Regions from separate parts of the Homo sapiens genome. Here all the other regions are linked to region 1. Evidence: fine-mapped expression QTL. A gene starts in region 1. Each other region holds a variant in brackets. All regions are shown on one strand. Distances are from middle to middle. Region 1 holds the start of TJP3 (tight junction protein 3). Region 2 overlaps TJP3 (tight junction protein 3). Region 3 overlaps TJP3 (tight junction protein 3).

Evidence for each region. PIP is the estimated chance that this variant, and not a neighbour inherited with it, causes the effect. A credible set is the group of variants that fine-mapping cannot tell apart.
Region 2: its variant is the best candidate, but not a certain one, in a credible set for the expression of TJP3 in caudate (GTEx, PIP 0.53).
Region 3: its variant is the best candidate, but not a certain one, in a credible set for the expression of TJP3 in blood mononuclear cells (TOPMed, PIP 0.58).

What each region holds. Positions count from the first base shown.
Region 1 is chr19:3,704,909-3,713,082 of GRCh38, forward strand. It overlaps TJP3 (tight junction protein 3), which reads left to right and starts at 3,476. Exons shown (of 21, transcript NM_001267560.2): 1 at 3,476-3,653. RefSeq lists enhancers at 2,921-3,584, 3,585-4,246, 5,082-5,627, 7,641-8,142, 8,143-8,174.
Region 2 is chr19:3,746,472-3,754,643 of GRCh38, forward strand. TJP3 (tight junction protein 3) reads left to right here. Exons shown (of 21, transcript NM_001267560.2): 17 at 14-224; 18 at 305-405; 19 at 1,323-1,610; 20 at 3,667-3,713; 21 at 4,111-4,342. The coding sequence ends at 4,213. It overlaps APBA3 (amyloid beta precursor protein binding family A member 3), which reads right to left. Exons shown (of 11, transcript NM_004886.4): 4 at 7,724-7,869; 5 at 7,548-7,634; 6 at 7,294-7,455; 7 at 6,349-6,519; 8 at 6,037-6,249; 9 at 4,963-5,082; 10 at 4,718-4,858; 11 at 4,301-4,626. The coding sequence ends at 4,555. Among named protein-coding and RNA genes, the nearest start is that of APBA3, 11 kb to the right of the region's middle. The variant A/G (reference allele first, on the strand shown) is at 3,075.
Region 3 is chr19:3,736,642-3,744,815 of GRCh38, forward strand. It overlaps TJP3 (tight junction protein 3), which reads left to right. Exons shown (of 21, transcript NM_001267560.2): 12 at 1,914-2,022; 13 at 2,256-2,493; 14 at 3,911-4,122; 15 at 7,298-7,393. Among named protein-coding and RNA genes, the nearest start is that of APBA3, 21 kb to the right of the region's middle. RefSeq lists a silencer at 186-386. The variant G/C (reference allele first, on the strand shown) is at 3,771.

The sequences.
Region 1 (8,174 bases):
CGCTTGAGCCCAGAAGTTTGAAGCTGCAGTGAGCTATGATCACACCACTACAGTCCAGCCTGGGCAACAGAGCGAGACCTGGTCTCAAAACAAACAATGAAAAGTAAAAGAAATGCAGGTTCCTAGGCCCCCACCCAGACTTCACACACCAGAAACTGGGCAGAGTAGGGTGGTGGGAGGGCACAATCTGGGTGTTCATGACTCCTCCCTTCCAGGCAAACTGGGTGCCAGATAAAGTTTGGGGGAAGGGGCCAGCCACGGTGGCTCATACCTGTAATCCCAGCACTTTGAGAGGCCAAGGTGGGCGGATCACTTGAGGTCAGGAGTTCGAGACCAGCCTGGCCAACATGGAGAAACCCCATCTCTACTAAAAGTATAAAAATTAGCCAGGCGTGGTGGCATGCGCCTGTAGTCCCAGCTACTTGGGAGGCTGAGGCAGGAGAATCACCTGAACTCAGGAGGCAGAGGTTGCAGTGAGCCGAGATTGCACCACTGCACTCCAGCCTGGGCGACAGAGCGAGACTCTGTCTCAAACCAAAGAAAAGGAAAAGAAATGCAGTTTCCCAGGCTCCAACGCAGACTTCACACACCAGAAACTGGGCGGGGTGGTGGGGGTGGTAAAATCTGGGTGTTCATGACTTCCCCCTTCCAGGCAATTTGGATGCCAGATAAAGTGGAGGAAGTGCTGGAGGTTAGATCATTGATGAGGATAATGAAGAGGAAATATACTTAAAAAAAATTACTAAAACTGGCTGAACAGTCATGACTTACAGACGCAAAAGTCAACATCAAAACAAGCAGTTAAAAGCAGCCTCTTGGCCGGGCGCGGTGGGTCACGCCTGTAATCCCAGCACTTTGGGAGGCAGAGGTGGGTGGATCACCTGAGGTCAGGAGTTTGAGACCAGCCTGGCCAACATGATGAAACCCCACCTCTACTGAAAATACCAAAAAAGTAGCCAGGCGTAGTGGCACATGCCTGTAATTCCAGCTACTCGGGAGGCTGAGGCAGGAGAATCGCTTGAACCCGGGAGGCAGAGGTTGCAGTGAGCCGAGATGGCGCCACTGCACTCCAGCCCGGGAGACAGAGTGAGACTCCGTCTCAAAACACAAAAACAAACAAACAAACAAAAAACTTAAAAAAAAGAAAACTAGGGCAGGGATGGGGTGACAGGAGGGGAGAGGCAAGGGACAGAGAGGAGGGGCTGGGGTCCGGGAGAGCCACCAGCCTTCTGTGCCTTCCCCGCATCCCCCCACGCCCCTGGTTGGCTGTCCCCATTACGCAGGGTGGAAAACCGAGGCTGCCCGGCGGGGGCCGGTTGCGTGGTTTCTGGCGCCGCCTGGTGGCCATAGTGGCTACTACCGTCAGCAGGAGGTACTGCAGGCTGGAGGGACCCTAGTCCATTCATTCCAAAAACATGTATTGAGCACCTACTGTGTACCAGGCACTGTGCTAGGCCATAGGACACGGCAGGGATGAGCACGACAAAGTCCATGACCTCTGTGAGGTGGCATTTTAATATTTATTTATTTATTTTTCAGCCAGCGTCTTGCTCTGTCTCCCAAGCTGGAGTGCAGTGGCGCGATCTCGGCTCACTGCAACCTCTGCCTCTGGGGCTCAAGCGATTCTCCCGTCTCAGCCTCCTGAGTAGCTGGGATTACAGACGCATGCCACCTTGCCCGGCTAATTTTTGTATTTTTAGTAGAGATGGGGTTTCACCATGTTGGCCAGGCTGGTCTCGAACTCCTAACTCAAGCAATTCTCCCACCTCAACCTCCCAAAGTGCTGGGATTACAGGGGTGAGCCATTGAGCCCAGACTTAATTTTTTAAATTTTAATTTTAATGTACTGGTAAAGATGGGGGGGTGTCTCACTATGTTGCCCAGACTGGTCTCGAATTCCTGGCCTCAAGTGATCCTGCCACCTTGGCCTCCAAAGTACTGAGATTATAGGTGTGAGCCATCATGCCCAACCCTTCCTGGTTAATTTTATTTTATTGAGATAGGATCTTGCTCTGTCACCCAGGTTGGAGTGCAGTGGCACAGTCATAGCTCTCTGCAGCCTCAACCTCCCAGGGTCAATTGATCCTCCCACCTCAGCCTCCTGAGTTTCTGGGACTACAGGTGTGTACCACCACATCTGGCTAATTTTTAAAAAAGTTTTCTGGGCTGGGCGTGGTGGCTCACGCCTGTAATCTCAGCACTTTGAGAGGCCAAGGCAGGCGGATCACCTGAGGCCAGGAGTTCAAGACCAGCTTGGCCAATATGGTGAAACTCCGTCTCTACAAAAATACAAAAATTAGCTGGGCATGATGGCTGGTGCCTGTAATGCAATCCCAGCTACTCGGGAGGCTGAGGCAGGAGAATCACTTGAAACCGGGAGGCAAAGGTTGCAGTGGGCCGAGATCAAGCCATTGCACTCCAGCCTGGGCAACATAGCAAGACTCTGTCTCAAAAAAATAAAAAAAAAATAAAATAAAAACAAAAAACAAAACAAAACCAACAACAGCCAGCAGCAACAACAAAAAAACTTTTCTAGGCCAGGCTCGGTGGCTCACGCCTGTAATCCCAACACTTTGGGAGGCCGAGGCGGGCAGATCACTTGAGGTCAGGAGTTTGAGACCAGCCTGGCCAACATAGGAAAACCCCGTCTCTACTGAAAAAAAAAAAAAAAATTAGCTGGGCGTGGTGGTGCACGCCTGTAATCCCAGCTACTTGGGAGGCTGAGGCAGAAGAATCACTTGAACCCAGGAGGCGGAGGTTGCAGTGAGCCGAGATCGCGCCACTGCACTCCAGCCTGGGTGACAGAGGGAGACTCCATCTCAAAACAAACAACAAACAAAAGATATATAAAAATTTTTCTAGAGATGGGTTTCACCGTGTTACCCAGGCTGGTCTCAAATTCCCAGGCTCAAGTGATCCTCCCACCTCGGCCTCCCAAAGTGCTGGAATTACAGGTGTGAGCCACCACACCTGACCCTTTCTTGTTTTTTAGATGAGGACAGCAAGAAGCCCCTGTAATTTGCCCAAAGCCACACAGCGGGGAAGTGGCAGAAGCTTCTGTACGTAGGAACCCAGTCACTTCGTAGCAGAGAGGCAGACTGCGCACAGATCTGCGTGGGGAAGGGAGTGCGCCAAGCCACAGCCTGATGGGCCGGCGTGCCTGGCAGGAGGCTCAGCAAGCACAGAGACTGGGCAGCTCCAGATGCAAGAAGCAGGAGGGAGGGGGACTCCGGGAGTGCGGTCCATTCATGTCTGAATGTAGCCAACGAGGGTTTCCTAAGCACCTACCATGTGCGGACGCTTGATACCAGGGCCTCGGCGGTGAGGGCACAGGCAGGAGCAAGCTCACCTCTGGGCAAGCAGGGGTTAAGGCCAGTTGCTCCCACGTGAGGGCACCTTGCGACAGAGCCACACACCCAGTCCTCCTGCTGGCCCGCCCCTCACCCTGGTCCGTCTCCCTGTGTCTGTGGTCGTCAGTTCCACTGGCAGGGGACCTGCCTCCCTGTTGCCACCACAAGAGAGGAAAAGTTGGTCAAACAGGTGGGGAGGCCAGAGCTACAAGCCTCGGGTTCCCTCCCCACCACCCGTGCCAGGCAGGCACCCGGGCCCTGGCACCTGCTGCCTGCCCAGAGGCCACCCAGCCTCCTAGACAGGTAAGTCCCCCGCCCCACTGTGCTTTTCCACCCAGTGTGCATTGTCTGAGCTGGCCTTCCCCAGCTGAGGGTCCTTAGACTCCCCCCCAACCTCCCCCACCACGAGCTGTCTCCCCGGCTCCTCGGAAAGCAGGAAACTGACACTCCTGCGTGGGCATCTGACATAGTTTCGTAGGGATTATCTGACCGGCAGTTACTGCACCTGGCGGCCTGCCCAGGACGCTGAGCTGGAAACTTAAAAGGGTCATTGTTACCTAGGTGGCGCAGGGACCGGGGAGGCGGCAAAGGGGCACAGGTTGGTCTCTGATCCCCCTAACTGAGGAGGGGAGGGGATATCAGTCCAGACGGAGCCTGGGTTTACCTCCTGCAGCCCGAGGCTAGGAGGTGACAGGTGGGAAAGGCTGCGACCTCACTCATCTCTGAGCCTCCTGGAACTTCTTAAAAGGCTCCCAAGTTTTGAAACAACTGCGTCTCCCGCCCCCCAACCCCTCACCCTGTTCTCACCGCTGGAACCTCCAGGAGCTTTGCAGGGAGGGATTGGGGTGGCCTTTCTTTTGCTAATTTTTTTTTTGAGACGGAGTTTTGCTCTTGTTGCCCAGGCTGGAGTGCAGTGGTGCGATCTTGGCTCACTGCAACCTCTGCCTCCACCTCTGCCTCCCGAGTAGCTGGGATTACAAGCGCCCACCACTATGCCCAGCTAATTTTTGTATTTTTAGTAGAGATGGGGTTTCACCATGTTGGCCAGGCTGGTCTCGAACTCCTGACCTCAGGTGATCCAACCCCCTCGGCCTCCCAAAGTGCTGGGATTACAGGCGCAAGCCACTGCGCCCAGACTTCTTTTTCTAATCTTTACTCCTCCGAGCAAAATCTCTGTGGGATGGGGCAGAGGGGAAGGAGGAAGGAGCGCTCAGAGCCAGAGAGGGGAGGGGTCGGCAGCAAAAGTGTTTTTCTGGGTCATTTGCTCCCAAATGGGAAGACCAAGGGAGCTTCCTCGTGAGCCAAGTGTCCGATTGCATCTCAAGTCTCTCTCCAGAACCAAGAGGGTCCCCCGGGGCCGAGGAGGCATGGATGATCGCATAGTGGGGGACAGAGCGGCCCGGCATTTGGGGTCACCTTGTGGCTGTGTGGCTGCAGAGCTCCCAGGGAGCAGGCTTGCTTGAGATTCGGGAGTCCGTGGGGGTGGGCGACATGGATCCCACCTTGCCTGGGTTTTGAGAGCAAACCCGTGGACTCAGTTAGATCTGGCTTCCACACCTCCCTTCTCTCCGGGCCTCTGTTTCCTGCTCTGTAAAATGGGGATATTGAGGGCCGGGCGCGGTGGCTCACGCCTGTAATCCCAGCACTTTGGGAGGTCGAGGCGAGTGGATCACAAGGTCAGGAGTTCGAGACCAGCCTGGCCAACATGGTGGAACCCTGTCTCTACTAAAAATACAAAAAATGAGCCGAATATGGTGGCAAGCACTTGTAATCCCAGCTACTCCGGAGGCTGAGGCAGGAGAATTGCTTGAACCCAGGAGGTGGAGGTTGCAGTGAGCCGAGATTGTGCCACTGCACTCCAGCCTGGACAACAGAGTGAGACTCTGTCTCAAAAAAAAAAAAAAAAAAAGGGGTGGGGGGATATGGAGTCACCAAGGCACAGGGCTGTTGAGTGCCGGATGTAATAAAGCGGGTAACAGATTCTCGGTCATTCTGGGGTCAAGACGAGCTATCCCGGTCCGAATCGGAGTCTGGTCTCATCAGCTTCCTGGTTTGTAGAGGATGAACCCTGGCTCAGAGAAGGACAGCCGCTTACCCCGGGCCGCACAGCCAAGTAGAAATGTCAGGCGGCCAAGAGTCAAGACGCAGAGGACAGGGAGCTGGTGGCGGGGGTGGTGCTCTGGAGGCTGGCCCTGCCCCCAGCTGATGCCTCAGGCTCAGCATCTCGAGAAAGTCCTGCCCCCTGGCTTGGTGCTTCCTCGTGGCCCTGAGTCCCGGGGAAAGTCCAGGGCAGGGAGTATGGGTACTTGTTCTTCCTCTTTAGGGCTGGCCAGGGGCCAGGGGAGCTGTGTTTGCTCAGGGTGGAACCTGACACCCTTTGGAATGGATTGAGGTTAGCGGAAGCCTAGGCTGGGGGGAGGGGTCGCCCAGGGAGCGAACGGGCATTTATTGTGCACTTACTGTATGCGCGAGTGTGGGGTCACCAGGCCTTGGAGATTCAGCAGTGAGCAAGGCAGGCCAAGCTTCCTGCTCTCGTGGGGCGCATATTTTGGTGGGGAAAGACAGACATGAAACAAGAGCGCAGTAATGGAGCCAATGGCTGCACAGAGGGTAACATGCGTGAGAGGCGCTTTGTAACTTTATTTTACTTTTTATATTTTTTTGAAACGGAGTCTCGCTCTGTCGCCCAGGCTGGAGTGCGGTGGCGCGATCTCGGCTCACTGCAAGCTCCGCCTCCCGGGTTCACGCCATACTCCTGCCTCAGCCTCCCGAGTAGCTGGGACTACAGGCGCCCGCCACCACACCCGGCTAATTTTTTGTATTTTTAGTACAGACGGGGTTTCACCGTGGTAGCCAAGATGGTCTCTCCTGACCTTGTGATCCGCCCACCTCAGCCTCCCAAAGTGCTGGGATTACAGGCGTGAGCCACCATGCCCGGCCTTATTTTATTTTTTTTTGAGATGGAGTCTCGCTCTGTTGCCCAGGCTGGAGTGCAGTGGAACGATCTCCGCTCGCTGCAACCTCCACCTCCTGGGTTCAAAGCGATTCTCCTGTCTCAGCCTCCCAAGTAGCTGGGATTACAGGCGCCCACCACCACGCCCAGCTAATTTTTGTATTTTTAGTAGAGACAGGGTTTCACCGTATTGGTCAGGCTGGTCTCGAACTCCTGATCTCAGGTGATTCGCTCGCCTCGGCCTCCCAAAGTGCTGGGATTACAGGCGTGAGCCACCGCGTCCGGCCAAAATGAAGGGAGAGCTTTAAATGCTGGCCTGAAGACATTTGGCTTTATGATATTAAAGGATATTTTTTCCCAAAATAGTAAAATCATTACTCTCATACAAATACAAAATGAGGCCGGATGCGGTGGCTCACGCCTGTAATCCCAGCACTTTGGGAGGCCGAGACGGGTGGATCACGAGGTCAGGAGTTCAAGACCAGCCTGGCTAACATGGTGAAACCCTGTCTCTACTAAAAGTACAAAAAAAAAAAAAAAGGTGCTTTATGTGTCTGCTTAATTCATTAATTAATATGGGAACCGGTAAGACTTTATAGCCTATACAGAGGGGAATTAATTTGTTTCCTTTCTTTCTTTTTTTTAAAAATTGAAAATAGAAATGGGGTTTTGCTGTGTTGGCCGGCCTGGTCTCGAGCTTCTGGGCTCAAGTGATCTGCCAGCCTCAGCCACTCAAAGTGCTGGGATTTCAAGCGAGAGCCACCGACCCGGCCTCAGCATTCTTGATTGCCTGTGTGTGTGTGTTCTTTCAGTTCTCCTCTGGACCAGACACGGTGGCTCACGCCTGTAATCCCAGCATTTTGGGAGGCCAAGGCAGGTGGGTCACTTGAGCCCAGGAGTTTGAGACCAGCCTGGCAAACGTGGTGAAACTCTGTCTCTACTAAAAATACAAAAATTAGCCAGGTGTGTTGGCGTGTGCCTATAATTCCAGCTACTTGGGAGGCTGAGGCAGGAGAATTGCTTGAACCTGGGAGGCAGAGGTTGCAGTGAGCCGGGATCGCACCACTGCACTCCAGCCCCAGAGACAGAGCAAGACTCCATCTCAAAAATGTCATTCCGTGCCCAGAATGACAGCACCTTAGCGTAGATGGTTTCCATGGGGCAGGGGGCCCCCTCTAGCCCTGGGACACTGTAATTCACCTTTGGCTTTCCCACTGGGGGCCCGAGTGGAGTTAGAAGCATGGAGAGGCAGCCCAGGGGATCCTTAGTGGCAGATGCTTAAACCTTTGAGCCTTCCCTGAAATACTGCTCAGGGTCAAAACCGGGATCCCCGTTTTACAGATGAGGAAGCTGAGGCAGGGGCTGGAATTCACATGGGCTCTGCTTTTCTCTCTCTGCTGTGGAACTTCCTTCTAGAGCTCAGCCGTCCTCCCTTTTGGGGGAAATGGCATCTTTGGCATGGCTTGGTGGCTCCCGCCTGGAATCCCAACATTTTGGGAGGCCGAGGTGGGAGGATCGCATGAGCCCAGCAGTTCAAGACAGGTCCGGGCAACATAGCGAGATACCGTCTCTACAAAATATACAAAAATCTGCTGGGCAGGGTGGCGTGCACCTGTGGCCCCAGCTACACAGGAGGCTGGGGTGGGAGGATCGCTTGAGCCCAGGAAAGTGGAGGCTGCAGTGAGCTATGATTGCACCACTGCACTCCAGCCTAGGTGACAGAGCAAGACTCTGTCTCAAAAAAAAAAAAAAGAAAAGAAAAGAAAGTCCCCTGTTGAACACCCTGAGCTGCATTCCATACTCCAAGCTTCTAGCAGGTTCCACACTCCTCCTACTTCAAAGTGCCCCCCATGAGTCCTACTTCAAAGTGC
Region 2 (8,172 bases), 42 kb after region 1:
CGGCCTGGCCCAGGACAAGCATGCGCTCCTGGATGTGACCCCCTCCGCCATCGAGCGCCTCAACTATGTGCAGTACTACCCCATTGTGGTCTTCTTCATCCCCGAGAGCCGGCCGGCCCTCAAGGCACTGCGCCAGTGGCTGGCGCCTGCCTCCCGCCGCAGCACCCGTCGCCTCTACGCACAAGCCCAGAAGCTGCGAAAACACAGCAGCCACCTCTTCACAGGTTGGGGGGTGGGTGTCCCAGGGTAGGCGGGTGGGCCCCAGCCTGAGTCTCCTGCACACACTGACGTCCCCTCCCTGCAGCCACCATCCCTCTGAATGGCACGAGTGACACCTGGTACCAGGAGCTCAAGGCCATCATTCGAGAGCAGCAGACGCGGCCCATCTGGACGGCGGAAGATCAGGTACTGCCGCGGTGTGGGTGGGTCGGGCAGGGAGGCCCCACAGACGCTGTGCAGGCCCAGCTGGGGTTTGGGGCCTCTGTCGGGAGTTAGGGCTTGGTCAGGGATCAGGACTGTGGCCAGAGTCAAGATGGGACCTGAGACAAGGGTGTTGGACTGGAACTTGGGTGAGATGAGATTGGAGGAGCTGTTTTTTGTTGTTTGATTTGAGATGGAGTCTCATGTCACCCAGGCTGGAGTACAGTGGTGTGATCTCAGCTTGCTGCAACCTCCGCCTCCCGGGTTCAAGTGATTCTCCTGCCTCAGCCTCCCGAGTAGCTGGGACTACAGGCGAGCGCTACCAGGCCCAGCTAATTTTTGTATTTTTAGCAGAGACGAGGTTTCACCATGTTGGCCAGGCTGGGCTCAAACTCCTGACCTCAGGCGATCCACCTGCCTCAGCTTCCCAAAGTGCTGGGATTACAGGCCTGAGCCACCGCGCCCAGCCTGGAGGAGCTGTTTTGAGAATGGAGTCAGTGGGGCACGGGAGCTCACGCCCATGGTCCCAGCTACTCAGGAGGCTGAGGCAGGAGAATCACTTGAACCCGGGAGGCAGAGGTTGCAGTGAGCAGAGATTGCGCCACAGCACTCCAGCCTGGCAACAGAGACTCCTTCTCATAAAAAAGAGAGAGAGAATGGAGTCTTCTCTTGGGGCTGGAGTCAAGGTTTGGGGCTCAGCTTGGATTTGGGGGCTGAGCCTCTCAGGTGAAGGGTCAATGGATACAACCCATCCTGGAGTCAACAGAGAAGCCTCCACTGAGGCTCCAGGCTCCAGGCTCCTCGCCTTGATTTGGGACCAGAGTTTGAAGGTGGGGGGATGTCGTGGGTGGCAGCTGGGGTCCTGGCCAGGGCCAGCCGCAGCATCCACACCCACCCCACAGCTGGATGGCTCCTTGGAGGACAACCTAGACCTCCCTCACCACGGCCTGGCCGACAGCTCCGCTGACCTCAGCTGCGACAGCCGCGTTAACAGCGACTACGAGACGGACGGCGAGGGCGGCGCGTACACGGATGGCGAGGGCTACACAGACGGCGAGGGGGGGCCCTACACGGATGTGGATGATGAGCCCCCGGCTCCAGCCCTGGCCCGGTCCTCGGAGCCCGTGCAGGCAGATGAGTCCCAGAGCCCGAGGGATCGTGGGAGAATCTCGGCTCATCAGGGGGCCCAGGTGCGTCGGACATGGGGGGCAGGCCTGGGAAGGGTCTCCGGAGGGGATGCCAGCACAGAGCAGACACACACTGGGAGCCTGTTTTCTACCAGGACGTCAACAAACACGGCTTCCCTGGTCAGACTGGTTTCTGGGACTCAGACCTGGGGTAGCTGAGACCCACGTGGCACTGAGTAACTTGCAGCATTTTTTTTTTTTTTTTTTTTTTGAGACGCAGTCTTGCTCTGTCGCCTAGGCTGGAGTGCAATGGCGCAATCTTGGCTCACTGCAACCTCCACCTCCCAGGTTCAAGCGATTCTCCTGCCTCAGCCTCCTGAGTAGTTGGGATTACAGGCACCTGCCACCATGCCCGGCTAATTTTTGTATTTTTAGTAGAGACGGGGTTTCACCATTGGTCAGGCTGGTCTTGAACTCCTGACCTTGTAATCCACCCGCCTTGGCCTCCCAAAGTGCTGGGATTACAGGCATGAGCCACTGCACCCAGGCTTTTTTTTTTTTTTTTTTGAGATGGAGTTTCGCTTTTGTTGCCCAGGCTGGAGTGCGATGGCGTGATCTCGGCTCACCACAACCTCCGCCTCCCAGGTTCAAACGATTCTCCTGTCTCAGCCTCCTGAGTAGCTAGGATTACAGGCGTGCACCACCATGCCTGGCTGATTTTGTATTTTTAGTACAGACAGGGTTTCTCCATGTTGGTCAGGCTGGTCTGGAACTCCAGCCTCGGCCTCCCAAAGTGCTGGGATTACAGGTGTGAGCCACTGCACCCGGCCTTTTTTTTTTTTTTTTTTTTTTTTTTTTGAGTTAGAGTCTCGCTCTGTCACCCAGGCTGGAGTGCAGTGGCACGATCTGGGCTCACTGCAACCTCGGCCTCCTGTGTTCAAGCGTTTCTCCTCCCTCAGACTCCCAGGTAGCTGGGATTACAGGTGAGCACCACCATGCCCAGCTAATTTTTTTTTTTTTTTAAGGTATTCTTAGTAGAGACAGGGTTTCACCACGCTGGCCAGGCTGGTCTCCGATTCCTGACCTCAGGTGATCCACGTCGGCCTCTCAGAGTGTTGGGATTAGAGGCGTGAGCCACCGCACCTGGCCTCCAGCCAACATTTTAACCTCTCTGTGCACCTGTTTCCTCATCTAGGACACAGGGTGGATGGTATCAGACTTGGTGGCACAGGGCGGTGGTGAGCACTCAATGTGCTCAGCCCAAGTTTTGGCACATAGTAGTTGCGTGTCTTTTTGAACTTGACCTATCTAATTTATATATTTTATTTTTTAAATTTTAGAGATAGGGTCTTGCCCTGCTGCCCAGGCTGGAGTGCAGTAGTACAATCATAGTTCGTTGCGGCCTCCAACTCCTGAGCTAAAGGGAGCCTCTCATCTCAGCCTCCGGAGTAGCTGGGACCACAGGCGCGCACCACCACCCACACCCAGCTAATTTTTTTTCATTTTTTGCAGAGATGTGGTCTTGCT[A/G]TGTTGCCCAGGCTGGTCTCTAACTCCTGGGCTCAAGTGATCCTCCTGCCTTGGCATCTCAAAGTGCTGGGAGTACAGGCGTGAACCACAGCGCCCAGCTGTAGTTGGGTGTTTAACAGTAACAAATGTGTATGTAGCTCTTAGTGTATATGCCTCAGCATCTTCTTCCACACCCTCTCTAGGTCAATGTAAAAATCTATGAATCAATGACATCTCTGATTAGAGTGATTTTCCTGGGGTTGTGCAGTACCCAACCTGCTCAACTGTCCATGGCAGGCTGCATACGGAGCAGCCACTGTACTAAGTCCTTTACGTACATGAACTCATGGCTGTGGCCCTGTGAGGACTTGCACAGATGAGAAACCCAATTCCCCTTTTGCTGACAGGCTAGGAGGTCTCAGCTAAGGCCTTCCCCTATCCCAGCCTCAGTTTTCTCATTTAGATTTGGGGATGACCTGCAGACTTGTCACGGGGTTAGCAAGTGGGCAGCATGGCCCGGGCCAAGGTGGGGGATGGGATGGAGGTGGTTATTGATCTCGACTCACCATGCTCTGGGGGGAGTTTTGAAGCTCCTCTCTCCCTCTCCTCCAAGGTGGACAGCCGCCACCCCCAGGGACAGTGGCGACAGGACAGCATGCGGTAAGAACCCCATATTCCAGATTGGGGCCCTCAACCCTTCCCTTGGGACTCAGACTCTGCGGACTCAGATCTAGATCCAAGCTATGCCTTCATGGTGCCCCTAGCCTAGTGGGGAAGACAGAGCCTGCCAGAGCCTCTCTAAGCCCCATATAATCAGGGCCAAGGGAGTAGGAATCCACTTCCTGGGAGGCCTAGGAAGGCTTCTTGAAGGGCAGGATATTGCAGCTGGGGCTTTGAGGGATGCATAGGAGTTTGTTAACAAGGCCCTACCCATGAATGCCCAGATGTGCTTATCTCTGCCCACACCCACTGTGCCTAGCACAGCCAGCCTCAGTTTATGGTGAGAAAGCTCACACCCTTCCCACCCACAGCATCTATTCTATTTCCTGATCCCCAGAACCTATGAACGGGAAGCCCTGAAGAAAAAGTTTATGCGAGTACATGATGCGGAGTCCTCCGATGAAGACGGCTATGACTGGGGTCCGGCCACTGACCTGTGACCTCTCGAAGGCTGCCAGCTGGTCCGTCCTCCTTCTCCCTCCCTGGGGCTGGGACTCAGTTTCCCATACAGAACCCACAACCTTACCTCCCTCCGCCTGGTCTTTAATAAACAGAGTATTTTCACAGCACCGGCTTCTAGTGGCTTCCAGGAAGGACAAGGTCCTCGGTCCCGTAGACCCTGATCCGAGACTTTGCCAAATGCATAAGCTTTTACTGTTTTTATATTAGGAAATCATACAGGACCAAGAACCGCTGGGGTCCTGGCCAGCCAGGGCAGGCCCAGGATGGGGCTCCGGGGCCATGGAGGCGAAGGCACAGTGGCAGGCAAGGGATGAGGTGGTCACAGGTACACGGGCTGCTCCTGGCCTGTAAGGAGGCGATATGTGGCAGCTGGCATCGTCTTGATATGCACCTGGGGAGTGGAGGCGGAACGGGGCTCAGGGCAGGCCTGGGCTCGTGGGGGACGTGGGGGCGCCCCTGGCCACCACCCACCACCCGCACACCTCGCCATAGGCCTCGGTGAGCAGCTCGATGATGCGGGCGTGTGGCGTGGCCACCACACTCTGCCCATTGATCTCAATGATGCGGTGGCCGACGCGGATGCCCCCACGCTCGGCGATGCCACCACGGAGGAGGCTGCAGATCTGGGGGAGAAAAGAGGGGGACGGGAAAGAGGTGGGGGCTGCTCAGGGGCCGTGCTCAGGGCCGCCCTACCCCCCCACCCCGGGGCCAGGGGCCGGGGCCTCACGATGCCGTCCTCCACGCAGAAGCCCAGCTGCTCGCGGGCGTGGGGCCGGTGGATGATGGCGGTGGTGACGGGAGGGCAGTGGACGATGCTGAGTGTCACCGACGTCTGCGACTTCGTCTCCTGTGGGGCGGGGGCCGTTGGCCTCACTCAGCTGCCGGACAGCCTGGCAGGTTGTAGCCCCCTCTGGGCCTCAGTTTACCCTCTCATAAACCAGAGACCTGGAGTCCAGGGGCTCAATTCTGGAAGACCCCCTCAGATGTGATAGAGAACAGACTCGGGCCCGGTGGGCATGGGGTCGAAGCTGTCTGACCCGAGCCATATCGCTTCCTTATGGCCAAAAGCCAAGCCGACAGCCGGGCTCTCCAGGCAGGCTGCAAACATCTGTAAGAGGCTGCACGGACTGTGGCCTCATTCCTCTGACGGGGGCAGGTCCCTCCCTATCTCTGGGCCTCAGTTTCCCCATCTGAGCAACAAAGGTTGAGACTCAAAAACATGGCCAGGTGCAGTGGCTCACACCTGTAATCCCAGCACTGTGGGAGGCCGAGGCAGGTGGATCACTTGAGGCCAGGAGCTCAAGACCAGCCTGGCCAACCAACATAGTGAGACTCCATCTCTACAAAAAATAAAACAATAAACTGGGCGTGGTGGTGCACACCTGTGGTCCCAGCTACTCGGGAGGCTGAGGAAGGAGATTTGCTTGAGCCCAGAAGGTCAAGGCTGCAATGAGCCAGGTGCACCGCTGCACTCCAGCCTGGGCAAGAGTGAGACCTTGTCTCAAACAAACAAACCCCCCCAGAAATTAGCTGTTTCTTGTTAGAGAGAGAGAGTGGCCCAGCCCTGGAGCTGGGCCACCCGCATTTCCATCCTGGCTCTGGTACTAGGGAGGTGCCCTGGACAAGTGGCCTCCCTTCTCCAGGCCTCAGTTTCCCCAAGGGCACACCAGTGGGCAGGACTTAAAAGTTCGACTTTGTCCCTCCTGGCTGGGCTGGAGAGACCTGGCCAGGGAGGAGACCTCTCTGGGACTCAGCTCCCCTTCCTGGGAGTGTGGGGGCCCTGCCACACCAGGAAACTCACGCGGACAGCGGCCTGGCACGCAGCCAGGGGCAGCCCCACCAGGCTGGTCCCGTTGATGGCGGTCAGGCGGTCCCCGATGCTGAGGGCCCCCGAGCGCTCAGCAGGCCCCCCGTGCAGCAGGTTGGCGATGACGGCTGTGGGCAGCAGGGAGCCCCAGCCCGACTCCACCAGGGCCACGCCCAGGCCCTCCCCTCGCCGCTTCTCGAGGTGCACCTGGGACACACAGGGGGCGCGGAGGCTGCTCAGCAGGGCCCGGTGCAGGTGCACGGGTGTGGGGGGCACCAGGTGGGGGCTGCCCAGCACCTCACTCACCTCCCGGCAGTTGTCACTGTTGGAGAAGTGGTCCAGGTCCCCATTATGGAGGTGGCAGGCGCCTGGGCTCGGGTGCACGCCCACCTGGCTGGGGTCAATACCGCTTTCCCGTAGGAACTGGCTGTAGGCGGCGGCGAAGGCCTGGCCAATGGCCTGGGCGATGAGCTGGGCCTGCGGGGAGGAGTGGCGCGTCCCTGGGGTGTCCCACCCACCTCCTCCAGGTCCCCAAAGTCCCCAGGGTCCTCAGAGCTGAGCCCTCCTGTCCCCACCTGGGGTGAGAGTCCCAGGACACAGCCTTCTGCCCTGGGGCTTTGGGGGAGGTGGAGAGACAGCCGCATCTTGGGGAATCTACGGGGAGAAGGAAGGGGAGGGGCAGCCCTGGGCTGGGGGGACGATGAGGGAGGCAGCTCCCTGCGCATGGGCTGTGGGAAAAGCTATCAAAGACCCAGCCAGGGGGCCTGGGGCCTCATGGGTGGCAGGGACAGCCCAGGAGCGGGCAAGGTTTCGGGGAGTCGGCCGAGAGTCTTGGAGTCTTATAGGAGGCTGGACGCGGTGGCTCACGCCTGTAATTGCAGCACTTTGGGAGGCTGAGGTGGGTGGATCGCTTGAGCCCAGGAGTTTGAGACCGTGTTCACCTGGGCAACAGAGCGAGACCGTGTCTCTATAAAAAATACAAAAATTAGCCAGGCATGGTGATACCCCGGTGGTCCCAGCTACTAGAGAGGCTGAAGTGGGAGGATCGCTTGAGCCTGGAAGGTTGAGGCTGCAGTGAACTATGATTGCGCCACTGCACTCCAGCCTGGGTGACAGAAGGAGACCTTGTCCCAAAAAAAGAATTTAAAAATAAGCTTATGGGAGGGAGGTTAAATGCACGGCCCACTGAGGGAGGCGACAGTTGCAGTGAGGAGGGCCTCAGGAGGGTGGCCCCGCGCCCTGGCTGCTCACGTCCTCCGCGTAGAATACGTGGCAGAGCATCTTGTAGAGGCGGCGGCCGTGGTCCTGGGGTGCCGGCCTCCGTGCCAGCCGCCGCCGCGCCATCAGCACCAGCACGCAGCCGATGTCGGCTGTGTAGGAGATGGTATGCAGGGCGTGGTCCATCATGGCCTCCTGGGGCGGGAGAGGCAGCCTGGGTGGGTTGGGGGGCCGTGCCAGGCTCGATCACCCCACCCGCATCCCTGGGGCGGGTCCCTGCCCCGTACCTGGGAGTCCGCTGTCAAGACCTTGATCCTCTTGGTGGAGACGAACAGGTCCACCTCCGTCATGGGCTGGGTCTCCCCATCGGGGGCCTGTGGGTGGCGGCGTGGGAGGTGGAGGCCCCCACAGACCCAGCCTGCAGCCCACCCGCCTGCCCGCCCGGCCCCGGCCGCCCCCTCACCTTGACGCGGTCCATGGCCTCCCGGGCCTGGGCCATGCGCGTGCTGGTGGGCGGGTTCCGTTCCGACACCAGCTGGGTGGACCCCAGGTACCTGGCCCCAAATATGACACCGTCCAGGAGGTCTTCATGGTCACAGGGACCAGGCACTGAGGGCGACAGCGAAGAGGGTCGGCCCCCAGGGGCCCACTCCCACAGGCTCTGCCCCAGGGCTACGCTCTCCGAGATGGCCGGGAGACACAGTGTTCTAGCTGGTGGCTTAGCACTCTCCAGCCAGGAAGCACAGCCCACTGTTCTAGAACCATCCAAGCAGCCTGGCCCTCACAGGTCTAGAACCTTCTGTCCATCCCTCAAGGACTCGCAGGTGGGAAACCAGTGAGTCCAGGCCATGGCTGGATTCAAAGCCAGATCTAGCACCCACAGATACCTTCACCCCGTGTCCCCAGAATTCC
Region 3 (8,174 bases), 32 kb after region 1:
CTTGGCTCACCGCAACCTCTGCCTCCCAGGTTCAAGCAATTCTTCTGCCTCACCTCCTGAGTAGCTGGGATTACAGTTGTCCACCACCACGCCCGGCTAATTTTTATATTTTTAGTAGAGATGAGGGTTTCGCCATGTTGGCCAGGCTGGTCTCAAACTCCTGACCTCAGGTGATCCACCTGCCTCGGCTTCCCAAGTAGCTGAGATTACAGGCATGAGCCACTGCGCCTGGCTAACTTTTTTTTTTTTTTTTTTTGAGATAGAGTCTTGCTCTGTCACCCAGGCTGGAGTGCGGGGGTGTGATCTTGGCTCACTGCAACCTCCGCCTCCCGGGTTCAAGGGATCATCCTGACTCAGCCTCCCAAGTAGCTGGGATCACAGGTGGCCGCCACCATGCCCAGCTAATTTTTGTGTTTTTAGTAGAGACAGGGTTTCACCATGTTGGCCAGGCTGGTCTTGAACTCCTGGCCTCAAGTGATGCACCCGCCTCAGCCTCCCAAAGTGCTGAGATTATAAGCTTGAGACACTGTGCTCAAGATTGGGAACAACAATCTTGTTGTTCATGTCATATGACATTGTTCATGTGACATTCTTGTTATCAATGTCACAATCTCCTTGTTATCAATGTCAGGACTTTGGGTCACAGCCTCATTGCCTATGTCATGACCTTGTCTGGGTCGCAATCCTCTTGTTCCTGACATTGGCTGTGTTGACCGTGTCATGACCGTCTTGTATGTCCTAATCGTGTGGTCAGGTCACAGATCATTCTCTCATGATCTCCATGTCCACTTATAGTCATTTTCTGTGCCACCATCCCCTGTGTCTGTGTTGTGACCTTGCCTGTGTCCTGCCTTCATGACAGTGTCATAACTACCTCCAGGATCCACAGCCCCTCATCATCCCCCCATCTCTGTCCTTGCCTCATCTCATCCCCAGGCTGTCTCCCCTGTCCCTTGCGCGAGTTCACTCACCAAGTCTCACCCCCACTTTGCTCTCATGACCTTGCTTGTGTCTTGACCTTGCAGTGTGAGTTGTGATTCATGATGGAGTCACAGCTCCCCACTTTCCATGTCATAAGCCCACTGGCTGGGTGAAAACTTGATGCCAAATTGCCTGAGGGTCATGGTATTTTTTACTGTATTTCTACTCATTTTGCTTGTGGGATTCTAACCTTGACATCCACGTCATGACCCCGAGAGTAGGTGTCTGTGCCCACAAGCTGTGCAAGTATATTGCTGTCCCTGTTATGACCCTGAGAGCAGGTGGCTGTGTCTGTATATTGCTGTCCATGTCGTGACCCTGAGAGCAGGTGGCTGTATATTGCTGTCCATGTCATGACCCGGAGAGCAGGTGGCTGTATATTGCTGTCCATGTCATGACCCTGAGAGCAGGTGGCTGTGTCTGTATATTGCTGTCCATGTCATGACCCGGAGAGCAGATGGCTGTGTCCATATATTGTTGTCCCTGTCATGACCCTGGTGGTAGGCATCTGTGACCCACTGTGTGTCCATATATCGTTGTCCCTGTCACGACCCTGTGACTACTGTGACTACGTCTGAGTTCTTTTGAGCATTTCACACAGTTTCCATCGAGCTCCATGCCATGACCTCTGTTCCCATGTTTTGATATTGACAACCCACCATGATTTGGTTATCTGAGGACAAGTGCAGTGCCTGTGCCCGTTTCTGTGTCAAAACTCTTGTATCCTTACAATGCCACCAGCTGTCTGTGTCACACATCACACAGCCATAGGGTGATACCCCAGTCGGAAAGCCCTCGGGGAACTGCCGGGTCCCTTGGCAGCAGCTCTGGAAGCAGCTGGGGCTGAGTTTTGCCCAGAGGAAGGTCCAGGATCTCATGCACGCCCAAGAGGTACCAGAGCTTTTTCTATAGCTGCACTTGCTTTCTGGCAGGTGAATGACGTGCCATTCCAGAACCTGACACGGGAGGAGGCAGTGCAGTTCCTGCTGGGGCTGCCACCAGGCGAGGAGATGGAGCTGGTGACGCAGAGGAAGCAGGACAGTGAGTGCGCGTGGATATGGGTGTGCCTGTGTGTTGCGGGGGGAGGACCTGGCTGTGTGGCCTGGTGGTGAGTGCAGGGATGTGGTTGAATCTGCATCTCTGCACCCTCCATCCCTCTCCCTGGCCCCTACAGGGAGAGTGCCCCAAATCTCCAGCCAGGCCCACTCTCGGGTGGGGAGGGCTCAGATCAGGCAGCAGCCCAGGCAGCTCATGTGGCCTCCCGCTCTCCCCAGTTTTCTGGAAAATGGTGCAGTCCCGCGTGGGTGACTCCTTCTACATCCGCACTCACTTTGAGCTGGAGCCCAGTCCACCGTCTGGCCTGGGCTTCACCCGTGGCGACGTCTTCCACGTGCTGGACACGCTGCACCCCGGCCCCGGGCAGAGCCACGCACGAGGAGGCCACTGGCTGGCGGTGCGCATGGGTCGTGACCTGCGGGAGCAAGAGCGGGGCATCATTCCCAACCAGAGCAGGTGGGGACTGTGTGCTCCTGCAGTGGGGCACTTCTGCTTCAGCCTCAGTCTCCCCGTTAGAAATGGGCTCGATTGGGCTGGACGCGGTGGCTCAGGCCTGTAATCCTGGCACTTTGGGAGGCTGAAGTGGGCAGATCATGAGGTCAAGAGATCGAGACCATCCTGGGCAACATGGTGAAACCTCGTCTCTACTAAAAATACAAAAATTAGCTGGGCGTGGTGGCACATGCCTATAATCCCAGCTTCTTGGGAGGCTGAGGCAGGAGAATCGCTTGAACCTGGGAGGCAGAGGTTACAGTGAGCCGAGATCACGCCACTGCACTCCAGCCTGGCAACAGAGTGAGACTCTTGTCTCAATAAATAAATAAATAGGCATGATATCACTGCTTAGCAGTGTTGGTGGTTCAATCTGAGGAGGTCCACAAAAGGCTCTGGGCGGGCCCCATTTGGTGCTGGTATGAGCTTCCTGTTGTTGCTGTAACAGATGCCCAGAAACTTAGTGGCTTTAAACAACACACACATCCTCTTACAGTTCTGGAGAGCAAAAGTACTAAAGTCAAGGTATGGGCAGGCCTGGGCCCTCCCAGAGGCTCCAGGAGAAAACCAATTTTCCACCTTTCCCAGAGTCTAGAGGGGCCGCATCCCTCAGCTCGGGGCCCCTTCCTCCCCCTTCATAGCCACAGCACAGCCTCTTCTAGTCTCTCTCTGACTCTCACCCTCCCGCCTCTTCTTGTGAGGACCCTGTGAGGACATCGGGTCCCCTGGGTCACCCAGGATCATCATCCACCTCAATAGCATCAGTTTAATCCCATCTGCAGGCCAGGCACGGTGGCTCACGCCTGTAATCCCAGCACTTTGGGAGGCTGAGGCGGGCAGATCACGAGGTCAAGAGATTGAGACTATCCTGGCCAACATGGTGAAACCCCATCCCTACTAAAAATACAAAAATTAGCTGGGCGTGGTGGTGCATACCTGTAATCCCAGCTACTTGGGAGGCTGAGGCATGAGAATCGCTTGAACCTGGGAGGCGGAGGTTGCAGTGAGCAGAGATTGCACCGCTGCACTCCAACCTGGCGACGGAGCGAGACTCTATCTCAAAAAAGTAAATAAATAAATAATAAAGATTAGCTGGGCGTGGTGGCGGGCACCTGTAATCCCAGCTATTTGGGAAAGTGAGGCAGGAGAATCGCCTGAACCCAGGAGGCAGAGGTTGTAACGAGTCCAGCCTGAGTGACAGAGCAAGACTTTGTCTCAAAAAACCCAAAATAATAATAATA[G/C]TAATAATAATCCCATCTGCAGAGTCCCTTTTGCCATACAAAGTGGCCTGTCCACAGGCTCCGAGGGGTAGGACGAGGACGTCTTTGGGGCCACCATGCTGCTGACCCCAGTGCTCAGTACTGTCCCCTCTTCTCCCCAGGGCGGAGCAGCTGGCCAGCCTGGAAGCTGCCCAGAGGGCCGTGGGAGTCGGGCCCGGCTCCTCCGCGGGCTCCAATGCTCGGGCCGAGTTCTGGCGGCTGCGGGGTCTTCGTCGAGGAGCCAAGAAGACCACTCAGCGGAGCCGTGAGGACCTCTCAGCTCTGACCCGACAGGGCCGCTACCCGCCCTACGAACGAGTGGTGTTGCGAGAAGGTGGGGCCCGGAGCTGGAGGGGCCCTGGGGAGGCCTCACACACAGCTCCTGGTGCACCTGTTCACTAACATTCAGCCTCTAAAAGGCACAGTCTTGGCCCGGCGTGGTGGCTCACGCCTATAATCCCAACACTTTGGGAGGCCGAGGTAGGAGGATCGCTGAGGCCAGGAGTTCCAGATCAACCTGGGCGGTAAAGCAAGACTACATCTCTACCTCAAATTTATTTATTTATTTATTTTTGTTTTTATTTTTATTTTTAGACAGAGTCTTGCTCTGTCTTAGGCTGGAGTGCAATAGCGTGATCTGAGCTCACTGCAACCCCTGCCTCCCTGATTCAAGCGATTCTCTTGCCTCAGCCTCCCAAGTAACCGGGATTACAGGCGCCCATCACCCCGCCCCCAGCTAATTTTTGTATTTTTAGTAAAGACGGGGTTTCACCATGTTGGCCAGGCTGGTCTTGAACTCGTGACCTCACGATCCACCCGCTTCAGCCTCCCAAAATGCTGAGATTACAGGCGTGAGCCACCACGCCCGGCCTCTACATCAAATTTAAAAAGATAGCTGGGCATGGTGGTGCATACCTATAGTCCCCGCTGCTTGGGAAGCTGAGGCAGGAAGATTGCTTGAGCTTGGGAGGTCGAGGTTGCAGTGAGCTATGATCGCACCAGCCTGGCCCACATGGTGAAATCCCATCTCTACTAAAAGTACAAAAAATTAGCTGGGCATGGTGGCAGGCGCCTGTAATCCCAGCTACTTGGGAGGCTGAGGCAGGAGAATCACTTGAACCCGGGAGGCAGAGGTTGCAGTGAGCTATGATCGCACCACTGCACTCCACCCTGGGCCACAGATTGACACTGTCTTCAAAAGAAAAAAAAAAAAAAGCATGTTTCTAACCACTCTCCTTCTATCAAAAATACTTTTGGGCCTGGGTGCGGTGGCTCACGCCCGTAATCTCAATGGTTTGGGAGGCTGAGGCAGGTGGATCACCTGAGGTCAGGAGCTCTAGACCAGCCTGGCCCACATGGTGAAATCCCATCTCTACTAAAAGTACAAAAAATTAGCTGGGCATGGTGGCAGGTGCCTATAATCCCAGCTACTTGGGAGGCTGAGGCAGGAGAATCACTTGAACCCGGGAGGCAGAGGTTGCAGTGAGCGGAGATCACACCACTGCACTCCAGCCTGGGCAACAAGAGCAAAACTCCGTCTCAAAAAAAACAAAAAAACAAAAAAATTTTGGGTTATTTTAGGGGACAGAAGGACAGGAAGGGGGTTCATTCCTTAAAAATCTATTTGTGTCTCCAACAGAAATATGGTGCAAGGCATGTAGATAGCCTTACAAAAGGAAAAAGAAATAGCAATAATAATAATTTTAATAATTTATCTTCTTTGACCGGGCGTGGTGGCTCACGCTTGTAATCCCAGCACTTTGGGAGGCCAAGATGGGTGGGTCACTTGAGCCCAGGAGTCTGGGACCAGCCTGGACAGCAAAGTGAGACTCTGTCTCTACAAAATAAAAAATAAATTAGCCAGGTGTGGTGGTACGCCAGTAGTCCCAGCTACTTGGCAGGCTGAGGTGGGAGGATCCCTTGAGCCCAGGAGGTCGAGGCTGCGGAGAGCTATGATCATGCTGCTGCACTCTAGCCTGGGCAACAAAGCCAGACTCTGGGGGGAAAAATGCCTCATCCTGATTTCAGGAAGGGAAGAGATTAAGCTCTTATCAGAGGACAGGGGGTTAAAAACCCAGGTGCAGCGATTTTCCAAATAAAACCACAAAAGGGGTGGGAAGAGCAAATTGCCCGGGACAGGGGTGGGTGGATGGACCTTGAGAAAAGCCTTTGACACTGTCATCGCGCTGCTCCAACATCCAGATGAAAACGTCCTAGAAATACAAGGCCACGGCCAGGCGTGGTGGCTCACGCCTGTAATCCCAGCACTTTGGGAGGCCGAGGTGTAATCCCAGCACTTTGGGAGGTGGGTGGATCACCTGAGTTCGGGAGTTCGAGACCAGCCTGGCCAACGTGGTGAAACCCCGTCTCTACTGAAAATACAAAAATTAGCCGGGCGTGGTGGTGGGCGCCTCTAATCCCAGCTACTCAGGAAGCTGAGGCAGGAGAATCACTTGGACCTGGGAGATGGAGGTTGCAGTGAGCCAAGATTAAGCCACTGCACCGCCAGCCTCGGTGACACAGCAAGACTCTGTCTCAAAAAAATAAGTAAATAGGCCACGTGCGGTGGCTCACGCCTGTAATCCCAGCACTTTGGGAGGCCGAGGCGGGCGGATCACGAGGTCAGGAGTTCGAGATCAGCTTGACCAACATGGTGAAACCCAGTTTCTACTAAAAATACAAAAATTAGCCAGGCATGGTGGCGCACGCCTGTAATCCCAGCTACTCAGGAGGCTAAGGCAGGAGAACTGCATGAACCTGGAAGGTGAAGGTTGCAGTGAGCCAAGATTGCGCCACTGCACTCCAGCCTGGGCCACAGAGCTAGACTCCATCTCAAAAAAAAAAGTAAATAAAATAAAAGAAAGAAAGGGAGAAAGAGAAGGATTAAGTTGCAAAGACCCTGGGCTACCACTTTTCTCCCCTCAAGACGCTTCTGTGACTGTTTCTTCAGTGGTAAAATGGTGTATCTGGTAGGCCAGGTGTCAACATACTTTTCCTGCAAAGGATCACATAGTAACTATTTTAGGCTTTGTGGGCTAGTCTCTGGCAGAACTACTCAGCTCTGCTCAAAGGTAGCCATAGACAGGACATAAAGAAATGGTTGTGACTGTGTTTTGATAAAACTTTATTGACGAACACATGCAGTGGGCCAGATGTGGCCCTCAGGTTGTAGTCTGCTGACCTATGAGTTAGCTAGGTTCAACTGCTAAAAAGAGACCCTACAGCCAGGAAGAAAGGGAATGAAGGCAGGAGAGGGGCTTATTCCTGCCCTTGAAGGCGGAACCCAGAAATGTACACATCAATTCTGCTAGTGTTCCATTGGCCATTATTTGGTCATAAGGCTAACCTAGCTGCAAAGGACACTGGGAGATGTAGTATTTGGCTGGGTAGCTATGGTCCTGGTTAAATAGGCTGTTTACTATAAGGAAGTGGAGGGGTTTGTACAACACACTAGCAGTCTTTGATCGCAAATGGGACCCTGATTCTTTCACTGTGTCTCTACCCCTCAGCCAGTTTCAAGCGCCCGGTAGTGATCCTGGGACCCGTGGCCGACATTGCTATGCAGAAGTTGACTGCTGAGATGCCTGACCAGTTTGAAATCGCAGGTGAGAAGCCAGATCCTCTGGAAACCTCGTTGGTGAAATAGTTTCACAACTGTTTTTTTGTGGGGGGTCGGGGGAGAGTTAGAATAATGATGGCAAACATGAAGCAGATGGGCCACCAGTGCCCCCCCCAATACCCAAGCCAGACATCCTCAATCCATCTTGGCACCGTTTGTCTGGATAGAACCTCCAAATCCTTCTTAACACAGTTCACCAGGTAGCCATTGCCAATTGAGGCAAAGTGCCACCTGTTATTTGTTTAAGAGAAATTTATTGATCTTCTGAGACAGCAGTGAACACGACAGGCAAGGTCCCTTGGAGAAGACTCCAAATTAACAACTGTAGAAACAATGGCCGGGTGCGGTGGCTCATGCCTGTAATCCCAGCACTTTGGGAGTCCGAGGCGGGTGGATCACGAGGTCAAGAGATTGAGACCATCCTGGCTAACATGGTGAAACCCCGTCTCTACTAAAAATACAAAAATTAGCTAGGTGTGGTGGCGCGTACCTGTAGTCCCAGCTACTCGGGAGGCTGAGGCAGGAGAATTGCTTGAACCCGTGAGGCAGAGGTTGCAGTGAGCCGAGGTCATGCCACTGCACTCCAGCCTGACGACGGAATGAGACTCTGTCAAAAAAAAAAAAAACAAAAACAATTAAGATAGACTAGGAGGCCGGGCGCAGTGGTCAGGAGTTCGAGACCAGCCTGGCCAACATGGTGAAACCACATCTCTACTAAAAACACAAAAAATTAGCTGGACATGGTGGCGCATGCCTGTAATCCCAGC